3 separate regions of the Homo sapiens genome follow, and regions 2 and 3 are each linked to region 1. Evidence: fine-mapped QTL for protein levels in blood plasma. A gene starts in region 1. Each other region holds a variant in brackets. All regions are shown on one strand. Distances are between the middles of the regions. Region 1 holds the start of CACNA2D3 (calcium voltage-gated channel auxiliary subunit alpha2delta 3). Region 2 overlaps LOC124909381 (a long non-coding RNA gene). Region 3 overlaps CACNA2D3 (calcium voltage-gated channel auxiliary subunit alpha2delta 3).

The links. PIP is the posterior inclusion probability: the model's chance that the variant is causal. Protein levels are from the aptamer-based SomaScan assay of Sun 2018.
Region 2: its variant is fine-mapped to the plasma level of the CACNA2D3 protein (Sun 2018, PIP 0.95).
Region 3: its variant is fine-mapped to the plasma level of the CACNA2D3 protein (Sun 2018, PIP 0.95).

The regions. Positions count from the first base shown.
Region 1 is chr3:54,119,380-54,124,603 of GRCh38, forward strand. CACNA2D3 (calcium voltage-gated channel auxiliary subunit alpha2delta 3) reads left to right here and starts at 3,173. Exons shown (of 38, transcript NM_018398.3): 1 at 3,173-3,456; 2 at 4,134-4,215. The coding sequence starts at 3,335. It overlaps LOC124909381 (a long non-coding RNA gene), which reads right to left and starts at 4,063. Exons shown (of 2, transcript XR_007095914.1): 1 at 3,678-4,063. RefSeq lists a silencer at 1,930-1,979.
Region 2 is chr3:54,097,042-54,102,265 of GRCh38, forward strand. The region is part of intron 1 of LOC124909381 (a long non-coding RNA gene); the gene reads right to left. Among named protein-coding and RNA genes, the nearest start is that of CACNA2D3, 23 kb to the right of the region's middle. The variant G/A (reference allele first, on the strand shown) is at 2,482.
Region 3 is chr3:54,877,573-54,882,796 of GRCh38, forward strand. CACNA2D3 (calcium voltage-gated channel auxiliary subunit alpha2delta 3) reads left to right here. Exons shown (of 38, transcript NM_018398.3): 19 at 1,446-1,517; 20 at 1,778-1,839; 21 at 3,224-3,291. CACNA2D3-AS1 (CACNA2D3 antisense RNA 1) reads right to left here. Exons shown (of 7, transcript NR_046666.1): 4 at 1,116-1,372. Among named protein-coding and RNA genes, the nearest start is that of CACNA2D3-AS1, 21 kb to the right of the region's middle. The variant G/C (reference allele first, on the strand shown) is at 2,010.

The DNA.
Region 1 (5,224 bases):
TCCATATGCTGGATCAGGTGAATGCTCCTAAAACATTCACTTCTGTGTCATCATCTTTCACTTCTGTTCAAACACCTCCAGCAGCTCCTCACTGTTGCAGGACAAAGTGCGACATCCTCAGCTAGGTGGGATGGAGTGCATAGGTCTACCAATGAAAGTTTTATTTCTCTGGATTCCATGCTTCAACTGAGAGTTGGGTGTTGAAATATAAGCTTTTGGGTGAAAATGGCAAGTAGTGCCCAATGCCCTGGTACTGCATTTGGCTTACTGGAAGGTGCTCCTGGTCCCTTATTCTCATGTAGCTGCAGGAACTCCCTGGTTCAAAGTGAGGAGATTCTCTTTAAGGGGTGTGTGCCTTTGGACAAGTGGCTAAATCCTTCTGGGCCTCAAGTTTCCTCTCTGTTAAAATAAGACTGCAAGACTAGATTGCTTACAGATCCCTTTCAGCACTGATTTTTGTGATTCTGGAAAGAATATTACAGTGTGTAAGTGGTAAGACCCCAAATCTTTGGACACTTTGAGTTCTGAGTTTATTAGTATTAGTTTAAATATTTTTTATTTTTGAGATACTAGGATATGGTTAGCGGGATCCATCTTAAATGTAACGTGCATAATGTTCTGCCTAAGATGGCCTGCGTTACAAATGCTCAAAACACTCTCCTCCTGGGACTGTGACTTCCTGTGCCTGGCCTCTCATCGCTACTCTCTAGTTGCCCGAGACAACTGCGAAATTCACCTGTGTCAGGCTGGCAACGCATAGTGACTTTATTACGAAATGTCTTCATGACCTTGGTGCCCAGGTGGTCTTCAGTATAGTCCAGCAGTCAAGCAGTTGCTTAAATATGACTTAAGCTGTATGACTTTGCCGTGCCTCGATGTTCTCATCAGTTAATAGGCACAACAATAGTATGGGTGTCACAGGTACTTTTTCTTCATACACAGTATTGTTTTTCCCTTGTCAAAGTGTATAATTGTGCATTTACCATTATGGTTTTTGCAGTAAAGCCTGTCCTCTTCGTAGTGTATAAACTCGGTGAGGGCAGAGAGCCTGCTTTGTTCACTACTGGCTTCCCAGCATGTCCTACTGTACCTATCAATAGAGGCTGATTGACAGTTATTGACTACATGAATGAGTGAAGGCATGAAGGGCGTCATCATATAGATACCATGTGGGAAACGGATGGTCTTACTAAGAGCTAGCATGCACTCACTCACTGGTTCATTCACTATGCTTTCATTTAGGAAGAACGATCCCGCGTTCTGATAGGAAAACACATTTTCTTCTAACCCCCAATTTGAGGGTCAACTCCTGGGACCCCTTGCCTCGGGGGTCAGGCCGCGCTTGGCTCGGTTTGGAAAGGGCTGGCACGCTTCCTCAGGCGGAGGGTATGCACAGAAGCGGAGAATTCATTATAACCGGTTAGTCATCCGTAGAGGCTGTAGACACTGCCCGCGGGCGGGGCGCACCTGGCGCTCCTGGAGAGGGGCCTGTTCCTTGCGTTGCCCCCCAAGGTGGGAGCGCGACCTGCCAGAGCCCAGGGGAGCTCGGGTCTGCCCGCACTCGGGAAAAGCACTAAGAGCCTCTCGGTAGCAGTCCTTCTCCCTCGCTGCCAACTCTGAGATCAAGCCCAACATCTGCAGGGGTAACTTTTTCCAGGGACTACTGGAAAGGAGAGCCGGCCTGGCTCCTAGCCGGACACCACCTGGCGGAAGCTGGAGCCCGCCCTTACTTCCCTGCAACCTGAGGATGCTGAGGCCAAGGGCGGGTGACGGGGCAGAAAGCAAAGCCCTGGTTGCAGAAAGGCATGCAAATATGAACCCAGGTGTCTGGTGCGCCGGGAGCCCCGGCGACGTTAGGAGCGCACTCCTTGCTGGGGTCACCGGAGTTGCGCTTGGCCGGGCAAGGATGACTCAGCCTCACTCCGGTCGGTCTTTACCGCCAGCCTGCGCGAGGGCTCCACAAAGTTCCCAATCACACCCCATACCTCGCACGGGGGAGAGGGGTTCTGCAAGCTGGGTCCCGGGGTGGGGGCAGCGGCGAGAGAGGCGGGGAGAAGCCTGGTTCCCAGAACGCGCAGGGGCTTCTCCGGCTTCCTTTCTCCTCGCCCCTGAGGGCGGCGAGAAGGCGCCTCCTCCGGCGCTCACTGCCTCCTGCCCAGTGCGGTGGGCGCCGGAGTGGGGAGCAGGCAATCCCCCAGGCTCGGAGAAATCTTTTATCCCGAAATCCAGGGTGTCCCCCGGTCAGGATCGACTCGGCGCCGCGTTGGCTTCCTCGCTCAACCCTGACATCCCGGTCCCCACCAGTCACCGCAGCCGGGCGGACTCCGAAGGCAGCGGCCGCTGGGGAGCCCCGGGGCCTGGGTCGGGCGCGCAGGGGGCCGCTGCGCTGCGGCCGGATGCCGGGAGCCCCGCGCTGGTGCGCCCAAGCCGTGGTGGCAGCACCGCCCTCCGTGCTTTCCCCTGTCGGGCGCCGCGGCCGGAGGAGCAGCTGCGGGCGGTCACGCAGCGCTGCCCTAGCCAGAGCCCCGAGCTCCCACCCAGTCCCATCCCCAGCCCGATCCGCCCCGCGTGCGATCCCGCCTGCCGCCGCGAGCCTGTGCTCCTTTCTGAGATTTCTGCTTCTTCCCCAGCTCCCTCCCCGCAGGAGAATCGCGCGGCGGGGGCGGAGGGCGCGCCCCCTTTAGGTTCCGCGGCCCCCGACCCCGCCCGGCCCAGGGGCGGAGCGGGCATGCTACGCCCTCTCCTAGCAGCCGCCCGCAAAGTGCGGAGCGCCGCGCCCTGCCCTCGGCTTCCCTCCCGCGCCCCCAACCCCCACCCTGGCTAGGGTCGCCCGGCCCGGGGCCAGCCCCAGAGTCGCGCCCGCGGTGGCGGACTGCGGAGTTGTAAAGAACTCAGCGGCCGCAGTAGCCCGGGTGGGGCAGGGCGCGCTCCGCCGCGGCCAAGGACACTGGAGTTTCCGAGTCCCCGCCCGCGCGGCGCCTCCTGCCCCGCCGCCCTCCCGCCGCGGCCCGCCGGACTCCCCGGGGCCGCCGAGGCGGGGCCGGGCGGCTGCTGCTGCTAGAGGCGCGTCTCGCTGCCTCCTCCCCCGCCCGCCTCCCTCCCCACCTCTCCTCCCTCCCTCCCCACCTCTCCTCCCTCCCTCTCCTCTCCGCCCTCCCCGCCCCCCCCACCCGCTCCTTTTTCTGCTCCCCAAGTGAGCCGGGCGCGCGAGAGGCAGGCGGGGCGGCGCGGAGCGGAGCAGGCAGCCCCGCGCGCTCGCCCACCGCCCGCTCCGCGCAGCTCCCCGCGGCCGCTCTCGTCGCCGCCGCAGCGGGCGCGTCGGAGGGAGCCCAGCATGGCCGGGCCGGGCTCGCCGCGCCGCGCGTCCCGGGGGGCCTCGGCGCTTCTCGCTGCCGCGCTTCTCTACGCCGCGCTGGGGGACGTGGTGCGCTCGGAGCAGCAGATACCGCTCTCCGTGTAAGTGCCGGCTCCTGCGCCGCCCGGGGAGGGGACCTTGCCGCCTGCGACCCACTGTGCCCAAGTTTGGGCGCCTGCAGGTGCGGCTGGGCAGGACCCGCCGCGGGCGTCGGCCTCGCCGCTCGCACCTGCCTTTCGGGACCCGCGTCGGGCGGCGAGGCCGGGGTGGGATGCTCTGGCCCCTGCCCGCAGGTTGCCGAGTGAGATCTGGAGAGGCTCACCTCAAGTGACGGCACCAACTTTGGAGCCTGGTTACCGAATCCAACTTCCATGGGCCGCTGAATTTCCCCCCTCTTTGCTCTACTGCCGCCCCACTTCTTTTTTTGGGGGGGGGATGGGTGGATTTCTTCTGACTGCTATTTGCCAGGTGATGCCCAGTTTGGGGGGTCGAGTCCTCGGGCAGTGGTTCGAATGAAACTCAGTGGTCTTTTTAGAGAGCCTGGGAGACTTTGCGCATTCTTAACTCCGCGACCCCCCTCGGGCCCCCTCCCGCGCTGCGCTTTGCAGTTTTGGTGCTGGCAGTTTCTACCAAGCCGCTTTTTCTATCTTTTCTTCTTTTAAAACATGTTACATCGCACTGCTCCTTCAGCCATAGTCCCATGTGTGCGTGTGCGTGTGCGTGCGTGTTGACTGTGACACGGGTGTTACATATCTTCCTGTGCCCCTTCTCCCTGTAGGGTGAAGCTCTGGGCCTCGGCTTTTGGTGGGGAGATAAAATCCATTGCTGCTAAGTACTCCGGTTCCCAGCTTCTGCAAAAGGTAAGGTTTCTGTGGTGGCAGGAAGCGATGATTTTTCCGGCACAGAAAATGGAGGCAGATTTAGTTTTCCAAACAAACGTGAGCCCCGAGCAGCATCAGTTATCGGAGGACTCTCTGATCCCCGGGTTTCTTGGCATTGTACTATGCAGTGACTTCTTCCTACCAACCGGTTATTTTTAGATGACACTTGATTCTAACCACAAAGAAAAGCAGGATACTCACTCGCACTGTCCTGGCTGGGGCTCGGAAACTGAGTGTTTTTGCATGGCTCTCGTCTCCGTGTCGGTATTGCTGTTTCAGTGCCAGAGCAGATGCTCCTCGGGCCAAAAAATGCTAACTTCATCCAAGGGGCAGACTCAGTGCCTATTTTGTGATGCCTTTCACCTTGCGTTGGAGGCGTGGGGTTCAGTGTATCAGAGAAAGACGCTGCACTATTGTTTGTCATCCCTGCAGTTGTACAATCCCATTATTCCCCAATCATCTAGACCCAGGGCTAGGATGCATTACATCATTGCAGATAAGGAGAATGAATGTGGTTATCTTTCCACTCAGCTGCACTGCCGGGTAATAACCTATGAGAGTAGTCCACAAACTTAAGAAATGGGTCTGCATCCATGTAATTCTGGAGAGTAATGAGAATGGAGAATTGATTATTAGGTTCTTATCACAAGCTGCATCAATTTTAATTCAAATAGGCAGCATTTTAAGCATAAGCTTAAAATTACATTGTGAGATAAATGGTCCTTCGTTCTCCCCTTCAGGAAATAAAGAAAAAAAAATGGGTCTGGGAGGAGAGATTAGAGGGGTTCAAAGAATTTCAAGTTAGCAGATCAACAGGATTAATCAAAGTATTCTCTTGATGATAGAAAATAAAATTGGCCTTTAGGGAATAATTCTCTGAAAATGGGTACAAACAGCTTAAATTGTTAAGTTAACTTTTAAACATTTTAAAATATGATTTTTGGGCCAATGTACCATATGTGTTATGCATGCTGCCTGGTAACCAAGT
Region 2 (5,224 bases), 22 kb before region 1:
TTCTTTCTTTCGTTTTTTGTTTCTTTCAACGGGGTCACCCTCTGTCACCCAGGCTGGAGTGCAGTGGTATAATCATAGCTCGCTGCAGACTCAAATTCCTGGGTTCAAGTGATTCTCTTGCCTCAGCCTCCAGAGGAGGTGGGATTACAGGCATGAGCCACTGTACCTAGCTCTTAAAATATGCTAGTTTTATGGAATTTTTCTAATATTCCTACTTGCCCCGCCCCTCCACACTATAGTATTGATGTTCAAGATGGAGATTTGCAAGATTTTGATATTAAAAAATGAGTCTGATTTTCTTTTTTGAGATGATTATTTTTACAGTGAGTTCTCTGGCGGTGTTGTCAAATCATTCTTTAAATTTCCAGGAAACACTTTATGAAACAGTTAACCAAGTACAAGTCAATAACATTAAAAAGCAAAAGAAGAAGAAGAAAGAAAAAAGTAGTGGTGATGATGGAAACTATTCTAGATTTTAAAAAGACTAGATTTTAGAAATGAAATGGTCAGTCGGACTTTATATGGATCCTAGTTCAAACAAATAACTATAAAATACATTTTGGGCAGAAATGGGGGAAATTTGAATATGGTCTAAGAATTAGGTGATATTAAGAAATTGTTGTTAATTTTGTTAGGTGTAAAAATGATTTTGTGGCTATAAGATATCCTTATATTTTAGAAATGCTTGCTAAAGTATTTAGGGATGAAATGTTATAATCTGTATTTTTTTTAAAGACTAAGCAAATATGACAAAATGTAAGTCTACATGATGGTTATACAGAGTTAAATAGACAATCTTCTATTTCTATGCACATTTGAAGATTTTATAATACAAAGGCTTTTTGAGAAGGACATAGAAATTGCCAGTGGATTTCTTTACTACGTCTGTTTACTTTTTGTTTTTTTTTTATTTTTTATTTTTTAGAGGCAGAGCCTTGCTATGTTGTCCAGGCTGAACTTGAACTCCTGGGCTCAAGCAATCCTCCTGCCTTAGCCACTGAAGTAACTGGGATTACAGGCATGCACCACCTCCCCAGCTTCTACATCTATTTTAAGGAACCAATATGGGCACAATGTCTGATGAAAACTGTGGAAGAAAACTCCAAATATAAGTTAGGTAGATTTAAATGAGCTTTAAAAAATATTATCAGCTACTAGAATATAAAATGATGCAGCATTTATATGTAAAAAGTTCATGAAGCTTTCTTAATTCATTTATCCCCACCCATGTTCTGTGGGTGGGTATAAAAGAATAATAAAAGCATTGCCTGTTGAAGGAATAAAATTTTGACTCATAAATTGAACTTCATGAAAATTATTTAAAGTACTTCTAGATATAATAGTTTCGCCAGAAATAGTTCTCATTTGCATGATAGCATTTCCTATAAATGAGCAGAAGTTACGTGTCCATTGTAAAAAAAAATACAGATAATCCATTAGGAGAAAAAAAGGCCCATAATTCCACCCTGTTATTAATATGTTTGTATAGTTCTGTCCAGTACTTTCTTTGAGCATAGGTGTGCATCTCTCTTTTTTCCTCCTCTCTCCCTTCTTTCTTTGTTCCCTTTTTTCACACCACCATTAAATGTGAAAATAAAACCAGAAATAGGAAAAAGTGGCTACACCTAAGAGTGAAATCCACTTGTGATGAAAGCACTCCACTCCCAGAGTAAAGCAGTCTTTACTTTGGTAATTTATGTTTTCTTTTAACAGTCCTATGACTTTCATTTTTATTTTTTAATTTATGATTGACACATAATAATTGTACATATTTATGGGGTACAATGTGATGTTTTGATACATGTATAATTGTGTAATGATGACAGTTTAACATCTGTTGTCTTAAACATGTATTATTTCTTTGTGATAAGAACATTCAAAAACCTCTTTTCTAGCTATTTTGAAATGCACAATACAATGTTGTTAACTCTAGTGATCTTTCTATGCAACAGACCACCAGAACTTATTCCTCCTATGTAGCTATAGCTTTGTACCCACTGACCAATCTCTCACCTTCCCCGGCTTCTCCCCATCCCCCCATCCTCTGCTAACCACTATTCTGCTTTCCACTTCTATAAGAACAACTTTTTAGACTCCACGTATAAGTGAGACCTTGTGGGACTTATTTTTCTATGCCTAGCTTATTTAGTTTAAAAATGTTTTCCAGGTTCATCCATGTTGCCACAAATGACAGGATTTCATTTTGTTATTATAGCTGAATAGTATTCCATTGTGTGTGTGTGTGTGTGTAAACTATAATATGTATATAAACGTACCATAGTTTCTTTATCTATGCTTCTGTTGATGGACATTTAAGTAGATTCCATATATCAGCTAGTGTGAATAGTGCTGCAATGAACAAAGGAGTTCAGATACCTGTTCAATATACTGATTACATTTCTTTTGGATGTATACCCTGTAGTGGGATTGCTGGATCATATGGTAGTTCTATTTTTAATTTTTTTTTTTCTTAGAGATATA[G/A]TCCTACTCTGTCACCCAGGCTGGAGTGCAGTGGCTATTCACAGGCACTAGCTGTCCTAGGCTCAAGCTGTCCTCCTGCCTCAGCCGGCTGAGTAGCTAGAATTACAGGCCCATGCCACTGTGCCCTGCTGTTATTTTTAATTTTTTGAGGAACTGCCATACTGCTTTCTTCCTAATTTGTTGAGAGTTTTTATTATGAAGGGATGTTGAATTTATGGTATTTTAAATATATATTTTTAAGATCTCTTATATATGAGGGTCATTAGCCCTTTGAGAGCTGAGTTGCAAATATATTCCCCAGTCTGCCAGTTACTATTTTAAGTGTTTTACAACTTTATTATTGCACGTGGTCACATTTATGAAGGCTTCATATAATTACAGATAGTTATAATAAGACAATTATCACAATGCAAAGGAATCGATCAGCACCTCTTGAAAATGATATTATTATTGCTGGGCACAAATATATAGAGATAAATCTAATCATAACTTTAAAAAATCAAGGCATAATTTTCACATAATAAAATGCACATGTCTAAAGTATTCAGTTTTTACAATTTTGGCAGGGGTATTCACTTGTGCAAAAACCACCTAAACCAAAATTTGGAACATTTGTATAACCCCAGAAAGTGCCCTTTCTAGTCAGTTACCCAATGCCTCTCAACTGGGCAAGCATTTTCTAATTTGCCACCATTAGTTTTTGTTTGTTTCTGGACTTCACATATTTTAGAATCATTATAGTATATACTGTTTTGTACCCTGCTTCTTTCATTCAAGCATAATGTTTTTGAGATTCATTCATGTTGTTTGTTGGATTCATTCATGTGTTAACAGTTCATTTTCAGTGCTGAATAGTATTCTATTACATGAATATACCACTATATGTTTATCCAAAGACTTGTTAATGGACAGTTGGATTGTCTTCAGTTAGGGACTAGGAGCATTTGTGTATAACTTGTAGGCATGTGTTTTCATTTTTCCTGAGTAAATACCTAGGAATTTCTGGATTATAGGGTAGGTATATGAGTATAAGAAATTGCTCTAGTGTTCCTCAAGATGGTTGTACTCTTTTACACTCCCATTGGTGGTACATGAGAGTTCTAATTGCTCCACATCCTCACAACACTTGGTATTGTCCAGCTTTTTAATTTTAACTATTCTAGGGGTGTGTAGTGATAACTCATTGTGGATTTAAATTCATATTTTCCTCTTAAGTAATGATGATGAGAATCATTTCATGCACTTTTGTTTTTTTGCCATAGATTTTCATTTGTGAAGTGTTTGTTCAATCTTTTGTCCATTTGTAAATCGTGTATTTTCTTACTATTGAGTTGTAGGAGTTCTTAATATGTTCTAGATACAAGTCTTTTATTAAATATTGTTTTATTTTTATTTTCTTACAGTGTTTTTCAAAGAACAGATGTTTTTAATTTTGATAAAGTGCAAATTATCAGTATCTTTTTTTTGGTTAGTTTTTATCATATCTAGTCTGAGAAATCTTTGCCTATACTAGGGTGATGAAGATATTTCTCTCATGTTTTCTTCTAAAAGTTTTATAGCTTCAGCTTTTAAGCTAATATCTATAATCCATTTCATTTACTTTCTGTGGACAGTCTCATGCAAGGGTTGAGGTTCATTTTTTTTTATACAGATATACAATTGTACAAAGATTATTCTTTCTTCGTTGAATTACCTTGGACTCTTTGTTCAAAATCAATTGACCAGGTAAGTATGGGTCTGTTTCTGGGATCTCCATTCATTTTATTTATCTTTATGTCTATGCCTAAATCAATACATTATCTTGATGATTGTAGCATTATAATATGTTTTAGAGTTGAATCATGTGTCTTCCAACTTTGTTCTTTTTCAAGATCATTTTGTCTACTCTAGGTTCTTTATATTTCCCTATGCATTTTAGAATCACCTTGTCAACTTACACAAAAATGACTCCTGGGATTTTGCTTGGGCTTATGTTGAATTAAATTGGGAAAATGGACATCTTAACAATATTGATGATATATCTCTATTTATTAGGACTTACTTAATTTATCCCAAGAATGTTTTGTTGTTTTCAGTATAAAAGTTTTGTACATCTTAGATTTATTCCTACCTGTTTGGTGTCTGTTGCTAATATTACGCTATTTTTAAATTTCACTTTTTAATATGATTTGGATTTGTATCTATGTCCAAATCTCATGTTGAATTGTAATCCTCAGTGTTGGAGGATGGGTTGGGCGGGAGGTGATTGGATCGTGGGGGTCTATTTCCCCCATGCTGTTCTCATGATAGTGAGTGAATTCTCATGAGATCTGGTTATTTAAAAGTGTGTAGCACCTCTCCTTTTGCTATTCTCTGCCTTCTCTGGCCGTATAACACATGTCTGCTTGCCCTTTGCCCTCTGCCATGATTCTAAGTTTCTTGAGGCCTTCCCAGCCATGTTTCCTGTGTATCCTGCAGAACTGTGAGTCAATTAAATCTCTTTTCTTTATAAATTACCCAGTTTCAGGTACCTTTTCTTTTTTTTGAGACGGAATCTCGCTCTGTCGTCCAGGCTGGAGTGCAGTGGCGCCATCTCGGCTCACTGAAAGCTCCACTTCTCGGGTTCACGCCATTCTCCTGCCTCAGCCTCCCGAGTAGCTGGGACTACATGCGCATGCCACCACGCCCGGCTAATTTTTTGTATTTTTAGTAGAGACAGGGTTTCACCATGTTAGCCAAGATGGTCTCGATCTCCTGACCTCGT
Region 3 (5,224 bases), 760 kb after region 1:
AGTCCATTCCTTAACTACAGTGCCATCCTGCTTCACTAGTAGGTTCAATAAGTATAACCTGTTTTTGTTATGATTTAAGACAAGGGCAAGACTAAAGGAGGCATCAGTGACCCTGGCCTTGGACACTCCCAGACCCCCATGTTGATTGTTCTGTGCTACTGGGAGTTGGGGGTGGGGTGGCATGGAGACACAGCGAGGCTTACCTAATCTCTAGTTTGCCTGGGGAATGTGAGAGGAGAAGGTCCCAAATGGCTTTAGGCAGGCACCAGAAAGAGGAAAAATGAAAACCATGTTAAAGATAAATCGAGCCGTTCTTAAAAGTTAGAAAGTAGACTTAATTAGGACCAGCTCTCCCTGTCCAAAACCACAAAAGTTAAAATGGGAAAATATTTCCAGAAATGCCTATTATGTGTTGTTAAAAAAATATCTAGAGTAAAATATATGTTTTATTTTATACATGCCTCCAGCTAAAAATTATGCCTTTACTCACTCACACAGAAGATGAGAATGCAAACCCAAATCTAGACAGCCTCGAATCAAATTTAGGTTGCTTGCTAGTGTTGCAGTTTTCTATCGGCCAGATCTTACTCAAGCTCCTCAAAGGAGAAAAGAGGGGAAAAGATGAAAAAGACAAGAGAGGGGTGGGGAGAGAGCCTTTCCTGACAGGCTGTGGCATGTCAGCGTTTGCTCCTATTCCATTAACTGGCCTTCTCTGTCGTCTTGCCTTGGTGCCCATGACGGCACATCTTTCATCACTGCGTCTGCTGTCCTCCTCTGAACTCATGGAAGGGCCACATGTAATTAGATGAGGTCAGCTGGGGGTGGGGGAGGAGAGCCAGGCTCGCTGCTCCTAAACAGGACCTCCAAAAAATCAGATACAGGGTCGCTCCTGTTCACTGCCTCATCAGCAAGGTCATTAATTGGCCCAGATTTCTCAGAGAGCATTTAAAGATGATTCATCTTAGGAAAGGCTAACCCCTGTCTTCCAAATGCTTGGCCTTTTTTTTTTTTTTTCTTCTTCTTTTTAACTACTGTGTAGGAAAACGTCTTTAACTTGATTACGTTTTGAAAAGTGATTTCTCCATGACAAATCAGTACCCTTTTTGAAAACGTACCTTGTCCCCAGAGACGTTCTTGCTCGGCATTTCAGCGGGTCTCCAGGAGTTCACGCTCTGACCCCCGGGATTCATCAGTATCGCCAAGGCTCTTTTGTTATTGTCCTGAAGTTTACACGAGCTCCCCAAATTAAAGATGAAGGTCATTTATTTATTGTTGTTAGCCTGTCTCCCATTGTACATGAGCAGTTGGGTGTTTTATTCTTCAGAAGCTCTGTTTTCGAGGTGTAAGTTCAATATGGAGGCTCCACTGCACGCTGAGGATGCAAGATGTCCAGATTACATGATAACCCAGGGAAGAACTAACACACTTTTCTTTTATCATTTTAGTTGAGAAATGCTATGGTGAATCGAAAGACGGGGAAGTTTTCCATGGAGGTGAAGAAGACAGTGGACAAAGGGGTACATTTTTCTCAAACATTTTTGCTGCTTAATTTAAAACAAACCACTGTGAAAAATTAGCTTTGAAAGCTATATCTGGAATAAATATCTTTCGCTGAGATCATTTTTCTCTTGTCTTTACTTATCTCAAACAAGATTCATGTAGTACTGTTAACCTGATCATAGTGTGTCCATTTATTTTTATTTATTTCTGAAGACGTCACTTAGCAGACTAACCATGTTTTCTTTTCTCTACGACTTTTTTTTTTTTTTCAATCTAGAAACGGGTTTTGGTGATGACAAATGACTACTATTATACAGACATCAAGGGTACTCCTTTCAGGTAGAGCTGACCATAATACATGGACATTCCATCAGACCCATCAGTTGTGTTTGTACAAAACCTGCTGACACTCTCAGAGCTCATCATCTGAAGATAACCAAACACCCTGCCAAAAGGCTGGAAAGAGTGAGGAAGGGGCTTTTCCCAGGCTGCTTTTGTTTTCCAGAAGG[G/C]GGGGAGATGGTTCAGGCTCACCTAGGAGAACTCACTCAATCTGCCATGGCTTTGCATCTCATTGTCAAGCAAATATGCTTTGGGGGTTCCCGCTAAGGGTGAAGACAAGTGCAGAGGGTTACCAGGGTCCTTAACTATTGAACTTGCTGCTTTGTGAGTTCCATTTCACCTTTTATTTCCATGACCAAAAAAACAATCCTTCAAACCTGGAGGTGGCATATCCATTCCTACATGTTGTGCCTCTGTTTCCATTTCTCTGAACTGTCCTTGTGTGCTTGTCTACTTTTGAATCCTGTTGTTTCTCTTTGTAACAGTCCTGAAAAATGGCTTTGCCTCATTGGCTGCTTTCAGATGTGTATGTAGCATTCTAAAGTTTCCCACTACTATTAACTTAGTGTTGTAATTCATTTTGTAAAAAATTATTTCAGTAAGCCTGCTTCATATTCCTGAACTGGCGTCTCAGAGCTAAGGAGAGAAGGAGTTTACTGACTGTAGAATAATCTGAAAAATAAATTCTAGCATTGTTGTCCTAAACTGCCAAGGATCATGGGTGGATTCCATGTGGAACCAGGAGCAAATAAGGACCACATGAGCTGCTAAGTGGGTTTGCCAAATAGTCTCTCTAACGTAAGGGACTATGTTTTAAAAACATAGTCTCTTGCTTTTGATAAAAACGGAATGGATCTTAAATCAAGCCAGTGAGTGTGAAAAACCTATTAGACTAGGGAGAGGATTGGGCAAAGAAGCCTGCAACACAGTAATGTGGTTACACTCATGTAGTAGTGGAAGTTTTTGTTTTTGCCCTTGAGCAGGGGTCAATTTCCCGAGTCCCAAAGTCTAGGGGCTGGAGAGACCCATCTCTGGCTGAATGCAGGACAAGGGTGTATAAAGAGCAGGGCTCATGGTCCTTGGGAGGGCATCTGAGAGAAGGGCTTGCTGGAAGGGCGAGCAGTTTGCCACAACTCTGAAAACACAAAGAGTAGCCAATTGCTGCTGGCATTTCTGATCAGAAGTTACTTTGAAGCAGCTGATTGAACCTAAGAAAAACCAACACCAGTGATAATCAGTGGGGTTTTGAAAGTAAACAGTTGGAAAAATTGTTGACAGATCATAAAATGGAAATGTGAAAAATGGAAAATTAAAAAATGTTAGCCCACAAGTCTATTCGAGTCGATGCCAGGGATTTCAAGATTTGCTTTGTCTCTCTGCACAGTTTAGGTGTGGCGCTTTCCAGAGGTCATGGGAAATATTTCTTCCGAGGGAATGTAACCATCGAAGAAGGTAAGATACTGCCTGGCTCGTCTTATCCTTTGGTGTGGGAGGAAAGCTCGGGAGCTAGCTACTGAGTTAGCTGAAGAACTTGTTCATCTGTCCGCACCTGTGACCAGTCCCTTGGACATTCCACTCAAACGAATGCCTACTTGATAATTCTTAATACCTTTCTTCTTCCCTGGTGTGCCTAGATTTCAGAATGACAGGAGTTCCGATTCATGGTTGTGATTTAATTTACTTATATTCTACTTTCATCCACAAAGCTGTTGACTATGAGTAACTCACAGTCAACAGCATTATGGATGAAAGCAGAGTATCAGTAAATAGGAATCATCCCTCAAGTATATTCTTCTCATACATAAAAATCAGTACTTGGGAGAAATACAAATTTATGAAATAACTCATGCCCAGGGGAAACCATGAAAACAGAGATATGAGAGCCTTAGTCTCTCCTACACAGTTGAGCCACGTATTTCACTTGTGTTTCATGGCAGCCCTGGCCCAAAGGGAAATGTGACCATTTAAATGATTTACATAGGTCAGAGGGAGTAAGTAGCACCTTGAAGTTCCCAGACCCTCTTATCTTCATAAAGCACAGAGGCACAGTAAACTCTCAGTAAACAGGAGCAGTTGTTATAGCTCTTTAAATTTTAAAATTGCTGTCACATGTGCTATCCTTTTCATCTGCCAGCTCCCTAGTAGTTCAGAGAGGTTACCTGTCCCAGCATTAGGAGCTCACAGGGGTGGTGGACATTGTTTCTGAAGGGCACCACTCCCTGAGTGGCCTTGAGTGACTCACTTGCAGGTCATTAGGTTTTGCATGTCCACAGAGGAGGAGTGGGCCCAGAACAGTAGTCTTTCTGGATGTCTTTAGGGAGGACAGCCAGGAATGGGAAGGTCAATTATAAGCAAAGTTTTAATTGGTCGGAACTGATTACACATGTATGTGGTGAGTTTCCAGAAGCTGGGCCATCCATGGCGCCCTCAGATGATGCCACAGGGCGTGAGGAAGGAGATGGATGTTCCCTGAGACGCCAAACCCCTAGATAGCCTCTGATTTACTGCCAGTGGTCCCTGCCCGTGTTGTTTCAGGGATGTTGGTTTGTGCTTCCCAAGTGCTTGTGAGATCGTATAGGGGCAGAAAGGAGAGTAGAGAGGCTCACTGTGAGCTGGGCACAACCCAGAGTGTGCCCACCAAAGAGCTAACCATGTGGTCTCTCTTCCCAGAGACATGCCAGAGAACACAGGCAACTCTGTGACTTGAGCAAGACACTCTGCAGGATGTGTTTTCAGGATCATGTTTTCACTTCTAGAATTTTCTGCCTCTGTGGGCCATGTTGGCTCTGTGGACATCACTGCCCATGAAGCCAGAAAATTCATGTCTAAGCCATGTGAGGTCACGCTGAAGAAACAACTCATGGTCAGAACAATAGGAGAGGTTATTAAGAGATATTAACTGCCTCTCATGCGTCTGCTCCCTTGGTCAATCCTCAATACATGGGCCTGTCCCTCCCTTCCTCTCTCTCTCTCTCTCACACACACATACATACATACATGCATGGAGACACAGATACACACAGTTGTTTTGCATTGTCTTTTGGATTCTTTTTCAGTCACTATCTTCCTGTATGTTCCACAGCTGTGAGGCTAAGCAGTCACAGAGAATTTCAGAGCTAACTGTAACCACTGTGCAAAAAATTAGCTCAAATCCTCAGCAAGGGGGAGAGTGGCTGCTTATCCACCCAAATGAGGTCATATCTTCCTCTCTCTGTTGGTCCTCTGTAAATAAAAAGACTGACAATCCTGCCAGCTTTGCTGAGTAATAGAACTTAAGAAAGCTGCTTCCCCTTGGGCCAAATAGTAGAGGATCTTGTCATCTCTCTAGGAGCCGTGGTGTATTATTGTTCTCTTCTGTTCTTGGAGAGGGAAGGAGTTCCTTGGG